7 linked regions of the Homo sapiens genome follow. The protein of the gene in region 7 interacts with the protein of the main gene of each other region in a pairwise test. Each region holds a gene or a part of one and is shown on either strand. Other genes may lie near its edges.

Region 1 (3,500 bases), on a different chromosome or scaffold from region 7:
GCAACAATGAGTTAAATCAACCCTGATGTTCAATACAGTGTCTGATGCAGCCGAACGGTCTATACATCCACAGAAGGGAGAAAAAAAGGCATAGCCAGAATTTCTAAGTGAAAAGAATACCAAATCCATGTTTTAAAGTGAAATGGAGGCATCTCCGCTGGGGCAAGACCTGTCACATGTTTGCTATTCCTAGAAAGACCTGCAATTAGCTGCCAACAGATGCATTATTTCATCAGTCCCATAAATACTCGATGAAAGTCTTCCGCTTTTCCTTTATGTCAGCCTTGCAGAGGTAGGAAGAAAAAAATCTTGTGACAAAATGCAGTACTGAACGATCATCATTTCCTTTTAAATGATTAAAATTAGCATTCATAAAAATAAAATATTTTAGTGAAATCTCATTCCAGCATACCTCTAAAGGCCCTTGGAAATTCTCCTCTTAAAATGAAAAAAAAAAAAATGCATTAGTACAATTTTTAAAAAGCCTCTTTCAATTATTAACACTGCAGCATAATACAATTCCATTTCAAACTCAGTGGGAAGCCAAGATTGCGCAGCAGAAAAAGTCCTAAATCAAGAGTTGCAAAGCCTGGATTCTAGTCCCAGTAATAAATTACATTAACTAGCTGTGTGATCATGGGCAAGTTGACTTAATCTCCCTAGGCCTCTGTTTTCTCAGAGAAAAATTAGATGACCTGTGAGTCCCACCCAGTTCTAAAATTCATAATACCAGGATATGGCTCCATCTTGCTGACTTTGTTTCACTAGCAAGTAAATGTGTTTAAAATTTAGAGAACTTACGAATTTTGAAATTCTAGTTAATTTAACTAATTCCTATCACTGGGCATAAATTGAAAGAGCAAAACTGTGAAGCATCATGAAAACAGCTCTATCTACTATCTATACTAGAACTGGAGCCTTCCTGCTTTAACTATGCCAGCCAGGTGATGGCTCCTCCCCCAAATGCCTGTCTTTCTTTTTAAATTAAAAAAATATATGATGAAAAGCAACTTTTGGCCACATCCTCACACCATTATTATTTTCTTTTCTTTTTTTTTTTTTTTTTTTTTGGGGGGGATGGAGTCTCACTCTGTTGCCCAGGCTGGAGTGCAGTGGCACAATCTCGGCTCACTGCAACCTCCACCTCCTGAGTTCAAGCAATTCTCCTGCCTCAGCCTCCTGACTAGCTAGGATTACAGGTGCCTGCCACCACACCCGGTTAATTTTTTGTATTTTTAGTAAAAATGGGGTTTCACCATGTTGGCCAGGCTGGTCTCAAACTCCTGACCTCAAGTGATTCACCCGCCTCAGCCTCCCAAAGTGTAGGGATTACAGGCATGAGCCACTACACCCAACCATTATTTCCGTTGGTTTTGTTTTTTAGACGAAGTTTCGCTCTTGTCCCCCAGGCTGGAGTGCAATGGCGCGATCTCAGCTCACTACAACCTCCACCTGCCAGGTTCAAGCGATTCTCCTGCCTCAGCCTCCCAAGTAGCTGGGATTCCAGGCGCCTGCCACCACGCCTGGCTAATTTTTGTATTTTAAGTAGAGATGGGGGTTTCACCATGTTGGCCAGGCTGGTCTCAAACTCCTGACCTCAGGTGATCTGCCCGCCTCGGCCTCCCAAAATGCTGGGATCACAGGAGTGAGCCACTGTGCCTGGCCTATTTTTTTATAGTCTCCTTTATGTTGACACATTTCTACTTAAATGTAAGTAATGGTTTTTTCCTAAATAATTTGGTATACTTTCAATCTTATTTCCTATTCAATATTCCTATGAACATTTTTCTTTTTATTTTTGGTTGATACATAAAAATTGTATATATTTATGGGATACAGGGTAACATTTCAATACATGCATACAATGTGTAATGATCAAATAAGGGCAATCAGTATATCCATCATGTCAAACATTTATTCTTTCTTTGTGCTGGGAATATTCAAAATCCTCTCTTCTAGCATTTTGAAAACACATAATAAATTCCTGTTAACCATATTCACCCTACAGTGCTAGGACATTAGAACTTATTCCACCCATCTAGCTGTAATTTTGTATCCATTAACCAACCTCCCCATCCCTGCCTCCCTCATACCCTTCCCAGTCCCTAATAACCACAATTCTAGTCTCTAAAAGTCATGTATTTTTAAAAGGAACTTCGTAAATAGAAAAGTTTTGCTTGCCATAAATGGAAGGAACCCATTAAGTTGACACAAAAAAAGCAATACAACTAGATTCTAGCTAAATACTGTTGCCCACAGAAGGCTTTAAGCATGAGGACCTCCTATCATTCTTACCGAACTGAAACAGAAATAGAAAGGAAATAACTTTCTCATCATGTAATTCAATATTACTTAATCCCACATCCACGTATCAACTAAAGTCATGCTACGAGCCACACAAGATCACGGCTGCACACACATCTCACATGTTGAGAGCAAAACAAAAGGTAGCCACTGAGCCTCTGCTGATGTGGAATGTGATTCATCCCAGGGAGGAAGGTGTCTTATTAGCCACATTGTCACCTGTGGCTCCCACTTGACTTCCTGTGTATTTGTGGTCCCCTCTATCTGAAAGCTCTCCTCCCTGTATCAACTCTGCAGCCAAACTCAGTTCTCTGCTCAGTGTCCCCTCATCAGAGAGGCTTTCCCTGACCACCCCCACCACCACACATACCGCTTCTCTTCATAGCGCTCTTCACCACCAAATGTTATTTATTCATTTGCTTATTATCTGTCCCTGCCCTTATCCCCTCCCTCTACTAGAATACATTGAACTCCATGAAAATAAGGGCTTTGTTTTGTTTACTGTTATATCTCCAGCACCTACTGTCTTGCACAGGGGTCCCCAACTCCCATACCGGTCCGTGGCCTATTAGGAACCGGATCGCAGAGCAGGAGGTAAGTGGCAGGCAAGCGAGGATTACCACCTGAGCTCCTCCTCCTATTGGATCAGCAGTGGCATTAGACTCTCATAGGAGCATGAACCTATTGTGAACTGCACATGCCAGAGATCGAGGTCGCGCACTCCTTATGAGAATCTAATGCCTGGTAATAATCTAAGGTGGAACAGTTTCATCCCGAAACCATCATTCCCCCCAACTCTCCCGTTGGTTGAAAAATTGTCTTCCACAAAACCAGTCTCTGACGCCAAAAAGGCTGGGGACCTCTGGTTTAGCACATGGTCAAGACTCAGCAAATATTTGCTGGATGAACGCATGAATGCCCTCAACTGATCTGGAGATCCTCCATTTGTCTTTATATACCCAGTACCTGGCATTCAGTAGGTCCTTAGGAAGTATATGAAAATCGGGCTGGGTATACACAGAAACCTGGGCCCTCTGCAGACTCTCCCTTTACCGAGGGAAGGGTCTTGCTATGGATACTGACCCACTGTTCTCACTCTAGCACACAGGACGCCACTAGGCAAACACTACTCAGTCACAGTGGAAGCACATGGATAGACTGCAAGCTAGATACACTGAGACCAACACTGAACTTAC
Region 2 (3,500 bases), on a different chromosome or scaffold from region 7:
TTAAAGCCCAGGTGCCTCCTTGCTCAGGCAAAGCAGCTTCTAGCATCCCAAGGGTAGCTTTCCCACAGAGATGCAGGGCATTGGTGGCCAGGCTGGTGGGCATGGAAAGAACAGGGCAGTGCGAGGGAGTCTGGAGCAGCAGCATCTGCTAAGACATTCCATCCAGCCAATGGTTGGTGGGCTCGATGCTCCCTCAGAAGGTAAATTCTGTGCTGTGCATTCCCTGGGTTAGGAGTGACTGTCCTGGGCATCAGGGAGGGCTTCCAGGAAGGAGGTGGCCCCAGAGCCATGGGGAAGCCTCCTGGGGCCAGGACTGGGTGGGGAAAGCATTATAGGAGTGGTATAAAGGAAGTGTAATTCTTCTTCTTCTTTTTTTTTTTTTTTTGAGATGGAGTTTCACTCTGTCGCCCAGGCTGGAGTGCAATGGCGTGATCTCAGCTCACCGCAACCTTCGCCTCATGGGTTCAAGTGATCCTCCTGTCTCACCCTCCTAAATAGCTGGGATTACAGGCATGTGCCACCATGCCCAGCTAATTTTTGTATTTTTAGTAGAGATGGGGTTTCGCCATGTTGGCCCGGCTGGTCTTGAACTCCTGACCTCAAGTGATCTGCCTGCTTTGGCCTCCCAAAGTGCTGGGATAACAGGCATGAGCCACCGTGTCCTGCCAAGAAGTACAATTCCTTTTTTTTTTTTTTTTTTTTTAAGATGGAGTCTCTCTCTGTCGTCCAGGCTGGAGTGCAGTGGTGCGATCTCGGCTCACTGCAAACCCCGCCTCCCGGGTTCACGCCATTCTCCTGCCTCAGCCTCCCGAGTAGCTGGGACTACAGGCGCCTGCCACCACGCCCGGCTACATTTTTGTATTTTTAGTAGAGACAGGGTTTCACTGTGTTAGCCAGGATGGTCTTGATCTCCTGACCTCGTGATCTGCCCGCCTCCAGGAAGTATAATTCTTAGGACAAACTCCGAGCCAGGAAGCGCAAGCTTTCCTCACAACATCAGTCACCTGTGTCCACCCTGCTTCCTCTCCAACTCCTGGTCCTTCAAGGTGTCCCTGCCACCTCTCTGTCTCCTCCCCCTGCCCCACCCCCTGCTCCGGGATACCTCCCAGAATCCATTCATGGAATAGACTTTAACTGAGCCCTGACTGGGTGCCAAGCCCTGCTCCAGGCCCTGGGAATGTGTGTGCAGCTCCTGCCCTACGGAGCTCAGACCTCTGCATGGGAGGAGACATGCATGTGGCTGCAGCCAGTTAGCGAGAGCTGTTAGGTAATGCGCAAAGAGAAAGGGATCGCGAGGGCTGCAGTGCGCACGGGTCGGATTTGAAATCGGTGGCCTTGAGCAGGTGACGTTTGAACTGAGACTGAAAAGAGGGGAGGGCGGTGTCCTGGAGGAGCAACAGAGAGTCTGAGCTGGAAGGGCCGTTTGTTGTCCTCTGGCCTAAACCCTGAGGCTCAGAGGGGAGGAGCAGAGCTTCCGCCCGCACAGCAGACTCAGCACAGTGGCCGCTCCAGTTCCCACGGAGGTGGGGGAGGGGCAACGATGTTCTGACCCCTTCTTAGGCAAACACCTCCTCCTGTGGCTCTGGCAGAGACCAGCTCCAGTCCTGTCTGCTGGGTCCTTCCAGCCTGTCGTGTCCTGTTGTGTCCTGAGCTCCTGCTGGCTGTCAGGCACGCTTGCTGGTGCTTCCTGGTGCGCGCAGAGCCCCGGGATTGTCATCACTGATTCCTGCATTGATCTGTCTGCACCCCCTCTTCATAAGTTCAAGGGTGGGACCCCCTTCTTACTTGTCTTTGCACCCTCTGGACCTGGCTGTGCTCAGTGAAATGGAAGGAAATGGAAATGAAATGGAAGGAAAGTTAAGTGCCTAGAGAAGTGGATGAGACGGGGTCCCCACCCCAAGGTACTGGCAGGCCAGGGACAGGGGCATCACTGAAACTGTCCTTTAACACTCCAAAGAGTGTTTCAGCGTCAGGTGGAGGGGAGGGCAGGCTTTTTGAGTAAGAGTTCCCCCAGTGGACGTGGGCTTAGGGAGAGCTAGACGAGGACAGCATGAGCAAAGGTGGGGAGGCTGGGCGATCTGAGGGTCGATGGAGAAGGGCAGCAGGGGTTGCAGAGGTGGGCAGAGTCCAGCTTCCAGCCAAGGACCCCTCCTCTCCTCCAGGTACTTTGAGAACATCCCCAAGGGTCTAGACCAGGAAGGCTGGACTCGAGGTGGCATCCAGCCCCAGATGCCAGGAGGCTACGCCCTCAGCCAGCCGGTCAGCTGCATGGAGGCCACCCCCAACCCCATGGAGAGCCTGCGGCACCTGCATCCCCACGTGGGAAGGTGGCACCACCCCCAGCTCTGTTCTTTCTCCCTACCCCTCATCCAGGCCGTGTGCCAGGCCTTTCCCTTCCTCTCCTCTCTTGCTGTCAGTCCGGTTCATTCCTATGAGAGGCCCATCTCCTCTGGCTGGCTCTGGTGTCCCTTCTCCTGCTAGCACAGGCTCCTCCCCTCCTCTCCTTCCAGTGACCCCTCCCTCAGATGGCTCCTCCTCCCTCTCCTGCCCCTGTTCCCCAGGCCCGGTGGACTGGATGGGGAGGATCTGAGCAAGGGGCTCTGGGGTGGTTCAGATCCAGAGGGGGATGCGGGGACGGATCCAGAGATGAATGGACTGTGGTTCGGCCTCACTCAGCTCCTTTCTGCTCAATTCAATTCCTCAGAAATTACATTTATATCAACAATGGCCCAGAGTTGGCAGGCAAAGAATGTTTGTGGCTTGGCTGCCCTGGCTGAACCCTGGCTATGCTCTCTCAGGGAGGGTCAGGCAGAAGACAAGAAGACAAGGTCCATGCCCTGCCTGCCAACACCCCCAACACTCTCCTCTTGCCTCCCTGCAGAACCCTGACCTCAGCTGACCCCTTCTACCAGAACACACCTCACAGCAGCCGCTGCGTGGCACACAGCTGAGCCCTGAGCCCTTGGTAAGGGGCTGGGGATCCCCACACTCAGCTGCTCTGGTTGTGTGGGCAACCGTTATGGGCCAGCCCTGCCTCTCAAGCCCTGGGTTAAGCAAGTCCTGCCTGGGGACCCCCCTTCCAAGTGGGGGGTGACAGATCAGGGGGCCTCTCAGAACCCCTTCTCTGCCAGGCAAGCACACAGAACCACCCCAGAGCCCCTTGCTCAGGCCTCGCCTCTGCTTCTCCTCTACAGGTTTGTCAATCCTAGGGGACAGGAGCCAGGCTACTGTCTGTACCCCCACTCCATCCCCCAGGGGAACACCCCTGCCCAGCTACTTTCCTAATGAAATAAAGAGCATTGAAGCAGAGAAGTGTGACATCACTATCAGGGTGGCTGGAAAAAGGAGGGGTGAGCTGGGGCGGTGGGTGCAGGGGTGGAGGAGCTAGGGCCAGATTTGGAGTCGGAAGGGCTCGGCTGGAACCTCTGAGGAACCATGACACGATGGATAGGCACTTCATTCTCCACGCTCAGTTTCTTGTCCTGTAAAGGGGTCCTCTA
Region 3 (3,500 bases), on a different chromosome or scaffold from region 7:
TAACTGCACATGCGGAATACCAGGAATTGTTTGTTCGACTGCTGGCAGACCTTTGGGCTGTCCCTGGTGTTTGGCCACTGTGGCCTTCATGCCCACATCCTCCTGGTCCTCCTGGTGGTGGTTCTGAAGGGCATCTCCTCTCATCTCATGGCTCCAAGTGCTTGCTAGTGGGTCCCCTTTGCCCTGAGCACCTGTTGATATCCTTTGCCCATGTTCTTCTTGAGTTGTTTGTGTCTGTGTTTTCTTGTTGTTTTGTAGGAATTCTTTGCATATTCTGGAAAACCCATTATGAGGTCCATGCATTGTAAGGCTCTCCTCTGAGCCCGCCTTTTTACTGTGTTTAGGGTGTCTTTTGTCGTCTAGAAGTTTTACATCTCTTCCATTATTGCTTCCCCATTTGAAATATTGAGAATTTCGTCTCTATCCCACACCATAAAGATATTGTTCTCTTGTTTTGCTTTGTCCCTGTAGGTCTTTGATCCAATTGGAATTGCTTGGCCAGGGCTTGGACTAGGTCTTCTGTCTTGGTGGGGCGAGCTCCCAGGGTGTGGAAACGTTTGCAGGTGGGGCAGGAGGGAGAGTCTGGTGGGAAGCAAGCCTGGGGTTGGCCATGTTGAGTGTTTGTGCCTTTTAGAGACTGGAGTGGTCGAGTAGGCAATCCGAGGGTTGGGGCATTACAGGGGTGGCTTTACCAGTGTGCTACCTCAGGATGGTTGGGGGTGGGGCGGGGAGGCAAGGCTCTGAGCAGGACTGGAAGAGCTGCTGTCATCAGAAGGGCCACAGTGTGGCTCCTTACCATGTGCCTGGCCCTATACCTCTTTGCTCATGGCCCCATATTTTCCCACCTTGTTGGTAGCCCTTAGCCCTTCCCCAGAGGGGAGCTCATTTCTTCCTTGGGGGTCCAGCATGACCGATGAGGAGGAGAGAGAGAGAGAGCGAGAAGGCTTCAGGAGCCCGTGGCTTCCACCCAAATACCTGCCTGGCTGTCACAGGCGATCACTCTGGTTGCTGCTGATCCGAGGTGCTGAGGCTGTGCCCACGCCCATCCCCCTCTTGACATCCCAGCCTCCGCCAGCCCGCCCAGCAAGCGCTCCTCAGTTTCCATAGCAACACTGCTGCTCGGTAATGATTCCGGGTAGAAAGGCATTCGTGCGTTCTCTGTCATCTCTGTCACCTGAGCATCCCACTGCCTGCTTGCTGTCCTGCCCCGGGAGTTCAGGAAGAAACCCTGAGGACAGCTCCGAGCCCTTCTGCTTGTGTGTTGGCTTCTCCTCAAGGGCAGTGGTAAGGTGGTAAATGTTCCCAGACAAAAAGCCCTGATTTGGAGCATTTGCCGATTTCCCTGGTGTAAATGCTGCCACTATAGCCGATTTCAAGCCACCACTGCGATGTCACTGAACTTGGAGTTGGGGGAATGCACACATAGTATTTCCATCTCCCATACCAGATGTGAATAACCCCAAAAGCACAGATGACAGAAAAGTGTAGTAAGATAATTAGACAGTGATGTGTTCCGAGGATTTATTGCCTTTGTTGTTAATATCATTCAGTTACCTGTACATTTCTACGGTTAAAATACCAATAATCGCTGTGTTTGACAACTGGCTTCCAAATTTCCCAGCTTCAGTTGGCTCTAGCCACTGCTGCTGAGAGTGTCGAGGCCATTCCATCATGTCCCTTTGTCTACAGCCTTCCTGAACCCACACTCTGCTGCCGCCCACCCTCTTCCATCCTGCCTTTCTAACTGTAGCCTCTCCACCAAGCACAGCATGCCCTGTCCTGACTGACATTCTTACGGTCTTCCAACAAATACCTTCTTGGCTGAAAGCTGTTTCCTTTATAGTATTTGATCCAGAAATTCCACCTCAAGAAATTTTCTCCACCTTGACAACCACTGGTTACACAAAGATTTAAGTATGAAAAATGTATAAAATGGACCCCAGAATGTGTCTTTGCCACATTCTTTATAATAAAAAATCAAAGCCACCCTTACTGATGTGATGATGAACATGATGGTCCACTGGTGTGTTGGTGTGGATGGACCTTAAGGGGCCTGCAGCTGCAAAATGGCACACATAGAAAACAGACTGGAAGGAAACAGGCCGCATGGCCAGGTGCGGTGGCTCATGCCTATAATCCCAGCACTTTGGGAGGCTGAGGCAGGAGGATTACTTGAGGTCAGGAGTTTGAGACCATCCTGGCCAACATAGTGAAACCCCATCTCTACTAAAAATACAAAAATTATCCAGGCGTGGTGGTGGGTGCCTGTAATCCTAGCTATTGGGGAGGCTGAGGCAGGAGAATCACTTGAACCCAGGAGGCAGAGGTTGCAGTGAGCCAAGATTATGCCACTGCACTTCAGCCTGGATGACAGAGCAAGACTCTGTCTAAAAAAAAAAAAACAACAGCTGGGTGTGGTGGCACACACCTGTAGTCCCAGCTACTTGGGAGGCTGAGGCAGGAGAATTGCTTGAGCCCAGGAGGTGGAGGTTGCAGTGAGCCAAGATCGTGCCACTGCACCCCAGCCTGGGCAACAGAGCAAGACTCCATCTCAACAAAAAAAAGCCCCCAAAAAACAAAAAAATGAACTGTGTTTCTTTTATAATCGGACAAAACTGATTTTGACAAAAAGCTCTTTTCAGAATATGAAAATTTTGGGGAGAAGGGAGACATAGAAAACTTCAATGATTATCTACAAGGACATAGTCAAATAGAAAAAAAGTAATGCAGGAGCCGCTGCTGAGGCCACAGGGGTTCCGAGGACAAGCTGGGCTCTCCTCAGATAGCTGTCTTCCCGAAAAGACTCGTACAGCGGTGGTTCTACTGTATCGCGGGCACTAAGACAAGATTTTGCCGTCAGAATTGACATCTCTGTGAGAAACCCGGGGTGGGAGGTGCCGCCGTGAGAATGCAGGACAGAGAGTTCTTCTAAACTTGCTAATATTCGCACAACTCGGAAAAGCAGAGGGCTCCGTGCAGGCGCAGCCACCTGCGCCCATGCCCAGGGCCCTTCTGCCCTCTCATCTGGCACAAGCTCCCAGCCTGCTCCATCCCTAGGCGGACTCTGGGTCTCCTCGCCCTGCCCTCTCTGTGCTGACTGGGGGCTTTGCTTCCAACTGCAAACCAGCCTCCCTGGGTCTTTTCTTGGCCCTGTTCCCTTTGCCTGATGGAGGCCAGGTGTCCCCTGCTCCAGAAGCCTTCCCCGCCTCCCACCGAGGCGTGCATGGCCAGCCGTGTGCTCCCTTAGCTGTGGGTAAGGTCTGTCCCCACGCTCACCTGCGGGGCATAGCCATTTGGGCATAATGCTAGTGTGTAGCCTCCCCAGGCCCAGAACAGCCCTTCCATAAGCCGCTGAGCCCATGAGGAGACCCTGCACGCCTGCCTCGAGCTGCCTCCTCCTAGAAGTGCTTCCTGCTGACCCTTGCTGGCCCCATGGCACGTGCCCTGAATTCTGGTGGAGTCTGTTCAGTCCTTCTTGGTCCTTAGTCATTCGTCCCTTC
Region 4 (3,500 bases), on a different chromosome or scaffold from region 7:
GCCCCTAAGAGGGAAGTAGAGGGCATTTCTGGGAGGCGGCCCAGCCAGAGGTTGGAGACCTAGGGCAGGGAGCCGGGGGAAACAAAGGCCTTGCCTGACCTAAGAAAACACTCGCCAAAAAGCTGGAAAGTCAGGGGCGGTGGCTCACGCCTATTATCCAGTTACGTGGGAGGCTGAGGTGGGTAACTTGCCTGAACCCAGGAGTGCAAGGCAAGCCTGGGCAACATAGTGAGACTCCATCTCTTAAAAAAAAAAAAAAAAAGCTGGAACCTCCTGTCCCTAGTGCCCTGGGCCAGTCCCTGTTCCCTCTGCGCGTCAGTCTCATCACTGTGAAAGGGGACCGGCCTGAGTGCTGCTGGGCTCCATTCATGAACCAAACATTTGCCAGGCACTGGCCAGGGGCCAGGACAGCGCCGCATCTGTGCCCTGCAATGGGGCTGGACGCCTCAGGGCTGCAACCCAAGCCTGCCCCACCCGGCCCCAGGACCCCACCCACCACATCCACGGTGCTGAACACATGGCAATAGTGGTGGCTGGTCTGCAGGTCCTTGGTGATGTAGGCAAAGGTACAGAGGTCCTCCGGGTCCTGGGCCGCACAGGAAATGTTCCGGATCTCGTGCTCTGCAATGACGTTCTGCTGGGGAAAGCCGTGTTCTGGAATTCTCAGGCTCAGGCATGCCTCTGGCACCCCCTGCCCCAGCCTGTTACCATTGTCACTGTTCTCTGTCCCAGCCTAGAGCATCAAGCAAACCCCCCTTCATCTTCTCATTTTGTTTATTGGTGGGGGTGGGGGTCCCCGATTTTGGTTTGGGGTCTCCACCCCTTACCACAACAACTAAGGCAGTAAAATGTTCACACCCAACCACAAGCTCTCCCCAGCCCCTCCCACCTTCCAGGGTGGGGGCAAAGTGGGAAGGGTGTCAGGAAGGTGGGATCCCACACGGTGGCACACAGAGAAAGTCCTTTGCTCACGGAGGGAATCACACCTGTGAGCAGGTGTGCGGCCAGTGGAGCCCAGGTGGCGAGGCTAACAGCAGTGATCACTAGGGCGGGGACGGGGCTGACAGCAGGCACCCAGGCCAGCAGATGAGAGACACGCCTCTTAGCAAAGTGGGAAGTAATAAGAGGACTGGGGACCCTCTAGGGAGATAAGAGATGAGACAGGGCAGCCGGGTTGCTTGCCCTGGAGCCCTGTGGGTCTGACGGGGATGTGGGTCCCACTCCCACCAAGAGTCCCTGTAAGCAGCACACCTTGTTGGAGGCATCGATGAACTTGACACCTTTGTATGTGATGGACAGGATGATGGTGGGGATCTTCTTCATGTGCTCCGTAGATTTCTACAGGAAACAAGGGGTGGCCCTGTCAGTGCCCCTTCTCAGGGCTAAGCCTCCTGGGCTTCCACAGGTCCCAGCTTCCTTCCCATCCTTACATAGTGCAGCAGGGCCCAGGCAACTGCAGCTACTGCCCCCATTGCTGCCTTCTGCTGGCCAGTCCCACAGCGCCCTCCAGCCCACACAGGCACCCTACCCGCATCTTGGCACAGGCGTCTTGCGTGGATTCTGTCCCTCGCAGATCTTTGATCAGCATGGAGCCCAGATACTGTGGGGGCGAGCAGTGGCCAGGCTTAGGAAATCCTGCGTTTCCATGCAGGGGTGACCCAACCAATTTGGGACTGTCCCACAATCAAGTAGTTACCCCTCTCAATAACAACACCCCCTCTCCTGCCCCAGCTGGAGAGACCCTCCATTCAACTCCCTAGCTAAAGGATCCAGAGGCCTCCACCCCTTCGCCTTAGCTGTCAAGAGTGGCTGAGAGTGGAGAACAGCTCAAAAGCCCTGGGCCTGGCTTTGTGGAGTCCCTGCTGGGACTTGGCCGCAGGTGCCTGGCCGAGAAGGAGCAGGGAGGCCGGCCCTGCTGGGAGGGTGGGAGCAACTCACATTGGCTTCATAACCACAGGACTCGAAGATGAGTTTCTCTGGCTGGTGTTGCCAACTCTGCACTGGGGCGTAGGGGGCTGCCAGGCTCGGGGGCCGCAGGGTCAGCTTGGCCTCACGGTGCTCCTCCTGCGAAACACACGCAATTGGACACCTGCTCCTTGCTCCAGAGGAGCACATGGGCTTGCTGCCTGGCTCCAGCACACTCAAGGGTGAAGATGCCAGTGACCTTAGCAAGTTCAAGGGTCGAGTGGAGATGGCAGGGGGCAGACCAGCAATTCAAACACACTGCGGGAGAGGGGAGGTGCTAGCCACAGCAGAGGCACAGCAGGGACCCAAACCGCCTGAGAGCAGGGCTTGGGAAGGACAGTCTCTGTGGTGTCCGAGATGAGTCTCAAAGGAGATGGGAAATGACCAGAGAGGAGATGGCAGAGTCTGTGTGGGGGGCACAGGCTGCCAGGCTGTTCTGCACAAAGACCAAAGGAGAGAACAGCGCCCACGAGACCCTGGGACGCCTTGGGACCCAGCCCAGGGCCTGGGAGGGATCTTCACAGCGGGGAAGCCAGTGAAGCACCCGCCCGTGCCTAGGAATGCATTCCAAATGGATCCTTCTGGCAGCAGCTAGGGGGTGGGGGAGGCCACTGCGGTCCAGGTGAGAGATCATGGGTCCCTGTCCAGGGCACTGGTGGAAGGAATGGAGAGGAAGGAAAAGATTCAGGAAACACGGAGGCCCTCCCTTCCCAGCAGTGCGCAGAGCCTCTCAACAGCAACCGGAATTGCTGGACAATGTGTTTAAAAATCCTTTAAAACTCATGGCTGTGCTTGTAGAAAGGGAAAGGAAGTCCCCAGAGCCAGAAGTGAGAAGTGAGAGTCAGAGAAACAAGCAGGGGTGAAGCTGAAGTTCACCCGGAGGGGCCTGAGGGACACCTGCTAATCCTGTGTCTGACAGGCCAAGAAGAGGACAAAGGACAAAGCCAAGGTCCGTACAAGGAGGGAGGCAGGACAGGCAGGTCCTGAGTAAATCCAGGACCCCTGGAAATGATGCCCTGAGAAGGTGAGCCAGGAGTGTGAGACGGGCCCACCTCCGCCAGGGCTGGAGCGGGCACCGGGAGCGGAGGAGGCGTCTCCAGCGGTGCCCCCCACGGGGCTGCAGGCAGAGAACAGGAAGAACAGAATCTGGTCTGGCTGTGGTTTTGCTGAGCAGGAGGAAGAGAATGCTGCCGAGGTGAAGCTGCAGGGAAAGCAGTTCTGGGGAACAACGTGGGTAAGCAGAGAAGGAAGGGGCCAAGAAGGAGCTCAGAGGCCAGGAGAGCACAGAGGGCTCTGGGGCCAGCAGGGGAGGCAGTGCAGGACGCAAGAGGCCACAGAGAAAGAGCGGACAGGGGATCTGAACCCCTGAGGGAGGGAAGTACAGGACACAGGAGTGGCCCCAGCAGCTGACAGCTAAAGTGAGTTGTGCGGCCCGAGCTCGGCACCATGGGTGCTGGGTGGGCCTTACGCAAGGCGGCTGGGTGTGGGCGAGCAGAGCAGGCTAGTGCCTCCTGACTCTGGTGCCAGCCCAACTG
Region 5 (3,500 bases), on a different chromosome or scaffold from region 7:
ATAAATTTTTAAAACAGCTAACATTTATTGAACATTTACTGTGCACTGAGGATTATGTCAACACCTTTACACATATTATTCCATTTATCCCTATAACAACCCACAGGCTTAGGTATTCCTTATTATCCCCATTTTATGGTTGAGAAAACTGAGGCTGAGAAGGCTAAGAAACTTGCCTATGATTGCATAAAAAGTAAACATCTAGGCCCGGCGTGGTGGCTCATGCCTGTAATCTCAGCACTTTGGGAGGCCAAGGTGGGTGGATCAGATAAGATCCACCCTGACTTGAGGTCAGGAGTTCGAGACCAACCTGGCCAACATGGTGAAACCCCGTCTCTACAAAAAACAAAAACTAGCTGGTCATGGTGGCACACTCTTGTAATCCCAGCTATTTGGGAGGCTGAGGTGGGAGGCTTGCTTGAACCCAGGAGGCAGAGGTTGCAGTGAGCCGAGATCACATGACTGCACTCCAGCCTGGGCAACAGAGACTCTGTCTCAGAAAAACAAAAAAGAAAAAAGAAAACATCTAGGCCCATATTTGATTACAGCTCTTGTGACACTAAAGCCTGAGATTCTAAGCCCTGTACTAGACTGCTTGCCCCTACATATAGTTCACCTACTCTGAACTAAGTGGAAGACCTAGGATCTGAAGTGAGCTATATAGCACTGTACATTGTATTAAGCATCTCAATATAATTTTCCAAAGGATTTGTTTATAAAAAGACTGATGAATATAATGCTGATCACAACCCAAAGAATGCCCTCAGAAACTTCTGTGGGTTCCCCTCACAGTTCTTATTCATCTTAGTAGAATCCATAACAGTGCCTGGCACAAAGCAGGTGCTCAATAAATGTTTGAGTGAATAAATGAAAAAGAATTATAACTCCCCAACCACCCACAGTTACAAGTAAGGGAGTCCTGAAAACCAGTGAGTGTCAGACATAGAAGAATATCCATTATCTTCACTCTGCTATACTATTAATACTTCATGAAAGCCAATTTGTTCTGTTATCATCTCATACAGTTATGTACCTCATCCAGCCACAAAAATAAAAAGTCCGATGAAAAGATTATGCATATTTCTTTATGCATAATTTCGTAGAGCACTAAAGCTCAATAGATGGCAATGTAACCTCTGGTTATGAGAAAATTGTAAGAAATAAGAGTCAAACTCTGATTCTTGAGTACATTTTTAGACTGACTACTATTCCACCTACACAGTATCATGCTTCACACATATAGAGTCATCTTTTGGTATCGACGGGGGATTGGTTCCAGGACCCCCGCAATACAAAAATTACAAAAATCCAAAGATGCTCAAATCGTTTATATGAAACAGTGTAGTATTCGAATATAACATATGCACATCCTCCTGTATGCTGTACTGTAAATCATCTCTAGATTACTTGTAATACCTAATACAATGCAAATGCTATGTAAATAGTTGTTATATACTTATTTGTATTATTTTTGTTGTTATATTGTTGTTTTCTTTTCTTTTTTCTTTTTTTTTTTTTTTTTTTTTTGACACAGAGTCTCACTCTGTCACCCAGGCTGGAGTTCAGTGGTGTGATCTCAGCTCACTGCCACCTCCGCCTCTGGGTTCAGGTGATTCTCCTGCCTCAGCCTCATGAGTAGCTGGTATTACAGGCACTCGCCACCATGCCTGGCTAATTTTTGTATTTTTAGTAGAGACAAGGTTTCACCATGTTGGCCAGGCTGGTCTCAAACTCCTGGCCTCAAGCAATCCACCTGCCTCAGCCTCCTAAAGTGTTGGGATTACAGGTGTAAGCCACGACACCCAGACTTGTTGTTTCCTTTTTGAATATTTACTATGGGCAGTTGGTCGAATCTGCCAATGCAGAACCCGTTGATATGACTGTATAGTGTAAACTATGCAAATTCCCACCATCTATCAGCAGGACTGCTACTCAGAGAATTTTTTATTCATTTCCTCTCAAATTCATATCACAAGTGAATAATACCTTTTCCATTCTTATCAAGTCCCGATCTATCACCAAACCTTTCACTCCTAAGAGGACTTTGCCTGTTACTCTACAAAGCTTAAAGTTCAGCTGAGCTACTCCCTCCCTTCAAAATCCTCCCACTCTGGGGCTTCTCAGGACATGGCGCAAGGCCTATCTGCATCAGAATTACCCAGGAAGCCTGTTAAAAATACAGATTCTCAAATTCCATCGCAGACCTATTGAATTAGAATCTCTCCAAGTGAGGCCTGGGAACCTGCATTTTAAATAAGCCCCCACCCTCACCCCTGCTCTTCATTTAGGCTCACGTTTGGCAGTAATCTCCTTCTTGAAGTCTAGTTCCATCACTGCACTGTATTTTATCCAGTTCCACTTCCAGATTCCCAACTGCACAGAACTTCCTGAATTTGCCCAGTCACGAGAATCCCCTTGGGGTACTTGTTCAATATGCAGGCCCCAGGGCTCTGACTCAGACCTACAGTCTGGGAGCCAGGATATTTAAGAAGCACCTCAGGTGATTCTTAGGGTCAGCCAAGTGTGGGAAGTGCTGCTCTGGAATATGCCCTAGAGCCTAGAGCAGCCCCCAGCACAGTGAGGTCCAACTGGTTGCTTGAGGTGTAACTGGGATGGAGTCAAGCCCAGGGGAGGTGGCAGGCAAGCAGCAGGTGAGGATGAGGAGACGGGTCCCCAGTAACCAAAGGAAGAACCACCCATATACCAAGCCACAAAACAAGTATCAACAATACATAGACCACACTCTCTGACCACAATGCAATACAATTAGAAATCAATAATAAAAAGACAGCCAAAAAGTATCCATAAGCTTGGAAACTCAAACCACACTTCTAAATAATTCACATACAAGAAGAAATTGTAATGGAAATCATGAGTTGCTTAATGATCAATGAACATTGAGTACTATATATCAAAACTTGTGGGATTCAACTAAAGCAGTAATTAGAAATCTGGGGCCTTGAATGCATATGCTGTATTTCACTGAATATAAGGCACCATCAATTGTAATAGCATCGTTATTTTATGTATCACAAAGAACAAAGGCTGCCAATTAAAGTATGATACATGCTTTTATCACTTAGAATTTTTATTTTATACTTATTGATGCATTCTTTTAATTTATTTATAGATTTTAATCACATATCACTCATGCACATATATAAAGAAGGAAAATATAAGCACAATAGACTGGTTAAGGCATTCCTAAATCTTATGCACATTCAGAAATCTGACTACTAAACCACTTTCAACTCAATCACTATTGTCCACACTTTCCACCTAATACTGACCTAATATTTCAATAAAAATGTGAGTTGAGTGATGCAGCATTTCTTTCTTTTTTTTTTTTTTTTTTTTTTTTGAGCCAGAGTCGCCCAGGCTGGAGTGCAATGGCATAATCTCGGCTCACTGCAACCTCCAACTCCAGGGTTCAAGCAATTCTCCTGCCTCAGCCTCCCGAGTAGCTGGGATTACAGGTGCATGCCACCACACCCAGCTTA
Region 6 (3,500 bases), on a different chromosome or scaffold from region 7:
AGTGGACATGCTAATATTTTTTTTTGACAGAGTCTCACTCTGTCACCCTGGCTGAAGTGCAGTGGTGTGATCTCGGCTCACTGCAACCTCCGCTTCCCAGTTCAAGCAATTCTCCTGTCTCAGCCTCCCAAGTATCTGGGACTACTCAGACCACCACCACGCCTGACTAATGTTTGTACTTTTAGTAGAGACAGGGTTTCCCATGTTGGCCAGGCTAGTCTTGAACTCCTGACCTCAGGTGATCCGCCCGCCTCGGCCTCCCAAAGTGCTGAGATTACAGATGTGAGCTACCGCACCTGGTTGGTTCTAACATTTCAAATGAGACATTTAAGGCAGAAGGATGGCAAACACTCCACGTAGTGCCCTCCCCCAACCAGACAGCCCACCTGATATGGCTCTCCATGCTGCTGAAGTCCCTGCCCACCTCTTCCACACACCCAGAGGAAGCCGCCACCAAGGCCAAGGCCACGTGGCAGCACTGCTGCTCACTCCCAGCCATTACCTTTCCGGTCTTGACATCCTGCACATAGATGCCCTCGTTCTCGTCTAGAGGGATGGCCTGGCGCTCCTCCACCACCTCCACTTTGGCAGATGGCACATACTCCAGGGGTCCGCGGATGAGCCAGTGGTCCCCAGCCTGGTGTGAGACCTTCTCCTCATCCTCCCCCTCCTCCAGGGGCTGCAGGGCCCTCAGCAGCAGCCCCTGCTGCTCCGACAGCACATACACATCCTGGATGCCTTGTTCCAGCTGCTCTCCTGGCTGGAGGAAAAAAGACTTCTCTCCCTAGTGGGGAGACGTGAGGTTAGGGTCAGTGCCTTTAGGGTTGCGGGTGCTTCCAATGGTACCTCCCCAGTCCTGTGCTGTTTCAGGCCTGTGTGGAGGACAAGAGCACCAGAAGCCCGCCCCCACCCCCACATCATAATACGGTGAGGCACTGTCTGGACTGTGAGGCTCTACACAAACGCCTGCCAAATCTCATCTGGTCAAATGTGTCCTTGAAAGATTCCATAACTGTCAGGACCTGGATCCACGCAAGCTAAACCATTAAAAATCAACCTGTTTTTTCTTCTTTCTCCCAGGCTTTGTTTTCTAGAGATGGTGTAACCTAGGGCTTGACAAACTCTGGTTTTCAGGCCAAATCTGGATTCTGCCTTTTTTTTTTTTTTTTTTTTTTTTTGAGATAGTCTTCCTCTCTTGCCCAGGCTGGATAGTGCAGTGGCATGATCTCAGCTCTCTGCAGCCTCAACCTTCCAGGCTCAAGCAATCCTCCCACCTCAGCCTCCCAAGGAGCTGGGACTACAGATGCGCATCACCACACCCAGCTAATTTTTGTGTGCTTCGTAGATGATGGGGTGTTGCCATGCTGCCTAAGCTGGTCTCAAAGTCCTAGACTCAAGCGATCTACCCACCTCAGCTTTCCAAAGTGCTGGGATTATAGATGTGAGCCACCACGCCCAGCACCGCCTGTTTCTTAAAAAAATTTTGAGATATAATCCACATATGAAATTTTCCCATCTAGAGTATACAATTCACAATTCAGTTGTTTTAGTATACTCAAAGTTGTCCAACCATCACTGCTATGTTAAGTCTAGAGTATTTTCGTCATCACCCTGAAAAGAAATCCTGTACCTAGAAGTTACTGCCACTCCCCACCTACCCCACCCACCACTAGTCTATTTTCTTTATGTGTTTACCTATTCTGGACATTTCACATAAATGGAATCATGCAATATGTGGTCTTTGATGTCTGGCTTTTTTCTTTTTCTTTTTTTGAGATGGAGTCTCGGCTCAGCAGCCCAGGCTGGAGTGCAGTGGTGGGATCTCGGCTCACTGCAACTACTGTCTTCCAGGTTCAAGAGATTCTCCTGTCTCAGCCTCCCGAGCAGTAGCTGGGATTACAGGCACCCGCCATCATGCTAGCTAATTTTTGTATTTTAACAGAGACGGGGCTTCACCATGTTGGCCAGGCTGGTCTTGAACTCCTGACCTCAGGTGATGTGCCCACCTCAGCCTCCTAAAGTGTTAGGATTACAGGCGTGAGCCACTGCGTCCAGCTGGCTTCTTTCACTTAGCATAACATTTTCAATTTTATCCATGTTGTAGCACGTATGTCATTATTTTTTGTTTTTCCTAGAGACAGGATCTCACTCTACTGCCTCAGGCTGGAGTACAGTGGCACAATCATAGCTCACTATACACTCCACTTCCTGGGGTCAAGCGATTTTCCCACTTTAGCCTCCCAAATAGCTGGGACTACAGGTGTGCCACCATGCCTGGTCAATTTTTAAAAGTTTTTGTAAAAATGGGGTCTCACTATGTTACCCAGGCTGGTCTCAAACTCCTGGCTTCAAGCAATCCTCCTGCCTCGGCCTCCCAAAGCACTGGGATTATAGTCATGAGCTGTTGCGCCTGGCCTGCCATTTCTTTCTTATGGCTGAATGATATTCCATTGTATGGATATGCTACAATTTTTTATCCATTCATTATATATGTACATTTGGGTTATTTCTAATTTTTTTTTTTTTTTGAGACAGTCTTGCTCTGTCACCCAGGCTGGAGTGCAGTGGTGTGATCTCGGCTCACTGCAACCTCCGCCTCCCGGGTTCAAGCAATTCTCCTGCCTCAGCCTCCAGAGAAGCTGGGATTACAGGTGCCTGACACCATGCCCAGCTAATTTTTTTGTATTTTTAGTAGAGAAAGGGTTTTGCCATGTTGGCCAGGATGGTTTCTAACTCCTGACCTCAAGCGATCCACCCGCTTTGGACTCGTAAAGTGCTGGGATTACACATGTAAGCCACCATGCCTGGCCTATTTCTACTTTTTCTGCCTCCTGTTTTTGCAGATAAACTATTCCAGGAGCATGGCAGTACTCACTTGTTTACGTAGTGCCCAAGCTGCTTTCCTGACATAACAGCAGAGTTGAAGAACTTCCACAGAAACAATGACTCACGGAGCCTGGAGTATCTACCATCCAGCCCCCTTTACAGAATGAGTTTGGCAACTGCTGGTATTCCCACATATAGTTCAGAGAGGGGATGAAGTAGGGGGTGGGAGAGGGTAAACCAAGAGGTTTATTTTACAAAAGATGACAAAGCAAAGTGAACACCAGGATATTAAAGATGTGAAATATAGTCACTGCATGATAGTTCAGTCCATTACAGACTGCACATGGTGGTCCCGTAAGATTATAATGGAGATTTTTTTTTTTTCTGAGAGTCTCACTCTATCGCCCAGGCTAGAGTGCAGTGGCACGATCTCGGCTCACCACAGGCTTGATCTCCAGGGTTCAAGTGATTCTCGTGCCTCAGCCTCCCGAGTAACTGGAATTACAGGTGTGTGCCACCACACCTGGCTAATTTTTGTATTTTTAGTAGAGACAGGGTTTCCCCACGTTGGCCAGGCTAGTCTCGAACTCCTGACCTCAAGTGATCCACCTGCCTCGGCCTCCCAAAGTGCTGGGATTACACGTATGAGCCACTGTGCTGGCCTATAACGAAGC
Region 7 (3,500 bases):
ATGAAAACATGCCAGAAATACCCACAAAATAGATCAAAATTATAATCTAATATTCCAAAACATGCTAAAAGAAGTTTATACAAGGTATAAAACAACAATATAAACCAGGATTTAAAAATTCAGAAATGAGTAGCAAGAACTCCCAAGAGAATTAGAAATAAAAGAAAAATGATTTTTAAAGACTAAAGCAAAAGAAATACAAGAGTGATTAAACACAATAGACAATGACTTAAGGGAAAGAAAAGGTAAAAAAGAGAATAGCTTGAAAAATTAAAAAGAAATGGTCAGACGTGGTGGCTCATGCCTATAATCCTCTGGGAGGCCGAGGCGGGTGGATTGCTTGAGCTCAGGAGTTCGAGACCAGCCTGGGCAACAGGGCAAAACCCCAAAACCCCATCTCTACAAAAAATACAAAAAAATTATCCGGGCATGGTAGCACACATCTGCAGTCCCAGCTCCTGGTTGGGGGCTGAGGCAGGAGGATCACTTGAACCCAGGAGGTTGAAGCTGTAGTGAGCCAAGATCATACCACTGCACTACAGCCTGAGTGATGAAGTGAGGCCCTGTCTCAAAAAAATAAATAAAATAAAAAGAAAGGAAAAGAAAGTTTCAAACATAAAAGACAAGTGTAAAAGATCCACCCTACATACAATAGAGTCCTGAAAGAAGGAAATCAAATCAAAGTGAACAAAATAAAAATGTCAACTTCAAGAGAACTGTACTGAAATTTTAAAATACATACACTTGAAACTATATATTGAAAGGATCCATCACATACTGAGAAAACCAATCCAGAACAACTCAGAACACCAATAAATATTCTACTAAAATTACTGTACTTTAAAGAAAGAGAAATATCCTTTGGGTGATCTATGAAAAATAATCACATAAGAAAGATCAGATTTTTTGAGACCAACACCTCAGGCCAGAATAAAATGCAGTAACATATTTAAGATATTCAAAGAAAAATAATGTGAACCAAGGATTTTTCAATAGCTTCACTGAGGTATAATTAACACAGAACAAGTTACACATACTAAAGTTTATAATTTAATAAGCTTTGACATATAATTTTATACCAAAATTATATAAAGATGGTGGATGGCAATGGCATCTTGCCATTGGAAGATGTCACCGAATATTGTTCTCATAGTATCTTGGAGAGAAATCTACTAGAGAACAAGTTTCAGATAAACACTGGAAACATAACAAAAGGACTGGAGGTAAGTGTACGCTTGAAGAAGTAAAACTAAATGAGTGTATAAAGGGAGACACTATAATATACAATGGCTATATGTTCCGACAATTCAGAAACAATACAATTATTTTTAAGTAAGGGGAGAAGGGATTTAGCATATGAAAAACATTTAACTGTTTTTAGTAATTATATTGGTACTGAAAGTATTGAGTTTGTTACTCTGACATTTTTAGATGTGTTCTGTATGGGGTAAAGTAAATGAGTAATTATGTGACATTATAATTCTATTAGTCTCCATGTCCCTGAAAGTCAGGACTATTGATATAGAAAAAGGAGACACAGATGTAAGACAGAAGAGGATAAGTAAAAACCTTATAATCCTTAATATAAACTTTAAGTACTACTATGAAGCCATGAGTTATTTCATCTATCCATATTTTGTTATATATGACATATAAACTTTATATCCTATAACATACATTATATACAAATTTTATCTCTACCTATATATTTTCAATTCTGTCCACCAAAAGGCATAGCAACAATAATGAACCCAATAGCGAAGAGCCTCCCTAGCACCCAGATTTGTCTTGGAATGACACTTCCCACTAAAAAAATCAAGGCTTGTTGGAAAAATGTTGATCCAGGTCTGAGACAGGAAAAGGTTTTAAGATGAACACCAGTTATTCCAGATAATAAGAAAGCCATAAAATCCAACAAGGTTTGTTAAAAAGACCCGAAGAGATTTCCAGTGGCAAAAAATTAAGACCATCTGAACATCAATAAATGCAGAGGATGAAAATATACCAAATATTTTTAAATCCATGAGTTAATAACAATAAAAAAACCTTAATTGATCATTTTTTATTGTGTTTGTATGCAGTGGACCAATTAAGTGACCATTGCCTGCCAGTCACTGTTAGGCCAATGGATAAAAGAAGATGAGAAGTTCTTGCTTACAGTTTTAAGGTAGAGACAGACAGACAAGAGTATGCACTTACTTCTAAGTTGACAATTGCCTGTGCAACAATCGTGAGAACTACTTCCACTCACCAAATGCAATTAGTATGATGCTTTAAAAAATACTTAAATATTCAGAGTGTGGACTGTATGGATCTAAATAAATCAAATACTTTATCTTCCTTTCGGCCTTTTCTTTTGAGATATACAACTATAAGCTTTCTTCCAAATCAAAGGGTAGTGTGTGTGCACACCTGTGTGTGTGGTTGATACCAAGTCATTTTTTGGCTGATCTGATCACTGTGAAATACTGTCAAACACTACTTACGCAAGCAATATTTACTCACAAATATGTAATACAACACGTAGAAAAATTTTGACATTCACCATCAAAGAAAAAATTTTCAAACAAAACAATTGTTTCTAAGATCAAAACTACCTTACTATGTTACAGTTAATGAATATGTATACCTCCAGAGCATTTTAACGGCATGTAAAACATGCATCTATAATAAACTACGATCATATAGTAAAAAATTTACTTTAACATACCCAATGCAGAATCAAAAAGTGTGAAGATTTGAATACAGCCATAAGATCATTTTTAATGTTTAAGCTTAATAGCCCCATTTAAAATAATTGTCATTCCATCTTTTTTTTTTTTTTTTGGCAGATAAAATTGGCTTTTAAAGTCACTTACCAATAAATGGCTCTCCTTCACAAACAAACAAAACATCATCATCCCTGGGGAAATCAAAATTTAAAAAGCTACCATCAAAATCTAAAAATCACATTAATTATCTGTTGCTTATAGGAACTATTCCTTACAATTATATAGACAATAGGTTTTGCTATCAATCTAGACTGCAAAGAAGCTAAGTTTCCAATGCTTTGTTTAACCCCTTGAACTTAACTGTCTTTGAATTTAAATTCAAAAATAAGATCTTGCACATGAAAGTACTTTTGAAATGTGGGGAAAAAAATCTCCTTACACAAACGATGTTGAGTTCAGCTTTCTTATCAATTGAGAATGAATAATTATGCTGAAAGGATAGATTAAAGTCACAGCCAACTATTCTTTTTTTCTTTACATTTTTTACCCCTAAATCATCAGCTGTTGTGTGCTTTGGAGATGAAATAAACTGTCATATTAAATCTAGGAAAAATATAGCTGGAAGTAACTCTACTGTCAGTGTTTACCCACTACACATCCACCATACACCCAAATGTAAATGGCTGCACATAACCCAGAGTTCTGGACAATCAGTGCACATCCTCTTCCTCAACCCATTACCCCAGATACTGTATTGTGAACCAAAAATGAATAAACAGATATCTTATA

The links.
Region 1: the proteins of KCTD9 (region 7) and CRADD interact in binary tests that used the Homo sapiens proteins (3 or more experiments, as listed by UniProt).
Region 2: the proteins of KCTD9 (region 7) and SAXO4 interact in binary tests that used the Homo sapiens proteins (3 or more experiments, as listed by UniProt).
Region 3: the proteins of KCTD9 (region 7) and PDZD4 interact in a two-hybrid assay, tested with the Homo sapiens proteins (one large-scale study listed by BioGRID).
Region 4: the proteins of KCTD9 (region 7) and ANKS1A interact in a two-hybrid assay, tested with the Homo sapiens proteins (one large-scale study listed by BioGRID).
Region 5: the proteins of KCTD9 (region 7) and SPATS1 interact in binary tests that used the Homo sapiens proteins (3 or more experiments, as listed by UniProt).
Region 6: the proteins of KCTD9 (region 7) and MVP interact in a two-hybrid assay, tested with the Homo sapiens proteins (one large-scale study listed by BioGRID).

The regions. Positions count from the first base shown.
Region 1 is NC_000012.12:93,683,875-93,687,374, reverse strand, and holds part of CRADD (death domain-containing protein CRADD), read right to left. Parts: intron 1-3,500. UniProt on the Homo sapiens protein: Adapter protein that associates with PIDD1 and the caspase CASP2 to form the PIDDosome, a complex that activates CASP2 and triggers apoptosis.
Region 2 is NC_000011.10:61,487,620-61,491,119, forward strand, and holds the end of SAXO4 (stabilizer of axonemal microtubules 4), read left to right. Parts: intron 1-2,162; coding exon 2,163-2,327; intron 2,328-2,881; coding exon 2,882-2,951; 3' UTR 2,952-2,965; intron 2,966-3,194; 3' UTR 3,195-3,309; downstream 3,310-3,500.
Region 3 is NC_000023.11:153,810,045-153,813,544, reverse strand, and holds part of PDZD4 (PDZ domain-containing protein 4), read left to right. Parts: intron 1-3,500.
Region 4 is NC_000006.12:35,081,255-35,084,754, reverse strand, and holds part of ANKS1A (ankyrin repeat and SAM domain-containing protein 1A), read right to left. Parts: intron 2,065-3,500; coding exon 1,939-2,064; intron 1,601-1,938; coding exon 1,529-1,600; intron 1,339-1,528; coding exon 1,252-1,338; intron 638-1,251; coding exon of another isoform or gene 635-637; coding exon 497-634; intron 1-496. UniProt on the Homo sapiens protein: Regulator of different signaling pathways. Regulates EPHA8 receptor tyrosine kinase signaling to control cell migration and neurite retraction.
Region 5 is NC_000006.12:44,349,150-44,352,649, reverse strand, and holds part of SPATS1 (spermatogenesis-associated serine-rich protein 1), read right to left. Parts: intron 1-3,500.
Region 6 is NC_000016.10:29,837,462-29,840,961, reverse strand, and holds part of MVP (major vault protein), read right to left. Parts: intron 785-3,500; coding exon 503-784; intron 1-502. UniProt on the Homo sapiens protein: Required for normal vault structure. Vaults are multi-subunit structures that may act as scaffolds for proteins involved in signal transduction. Vaults may also play a role in nucleo-cytoplasmic transport.
Region 7 is NC_000008.11:25,441,434-25,444,933, forward strand, and holds part of KCTD9 (BTB/POZ domain-containing protein KCTD9), read right to left. Parts: intron 2,903-3,500; coding exon 2,859-2,902; intron 1-2,858. UniProt on the Homo sapiens protein: Substrate-specific adapter of a BCR (BTB-CUL3-RBX1) E3 ubiquitin-protein ligase complex, which mediates the ubiquitination of target proteins, leading to their degradation by the proteasome.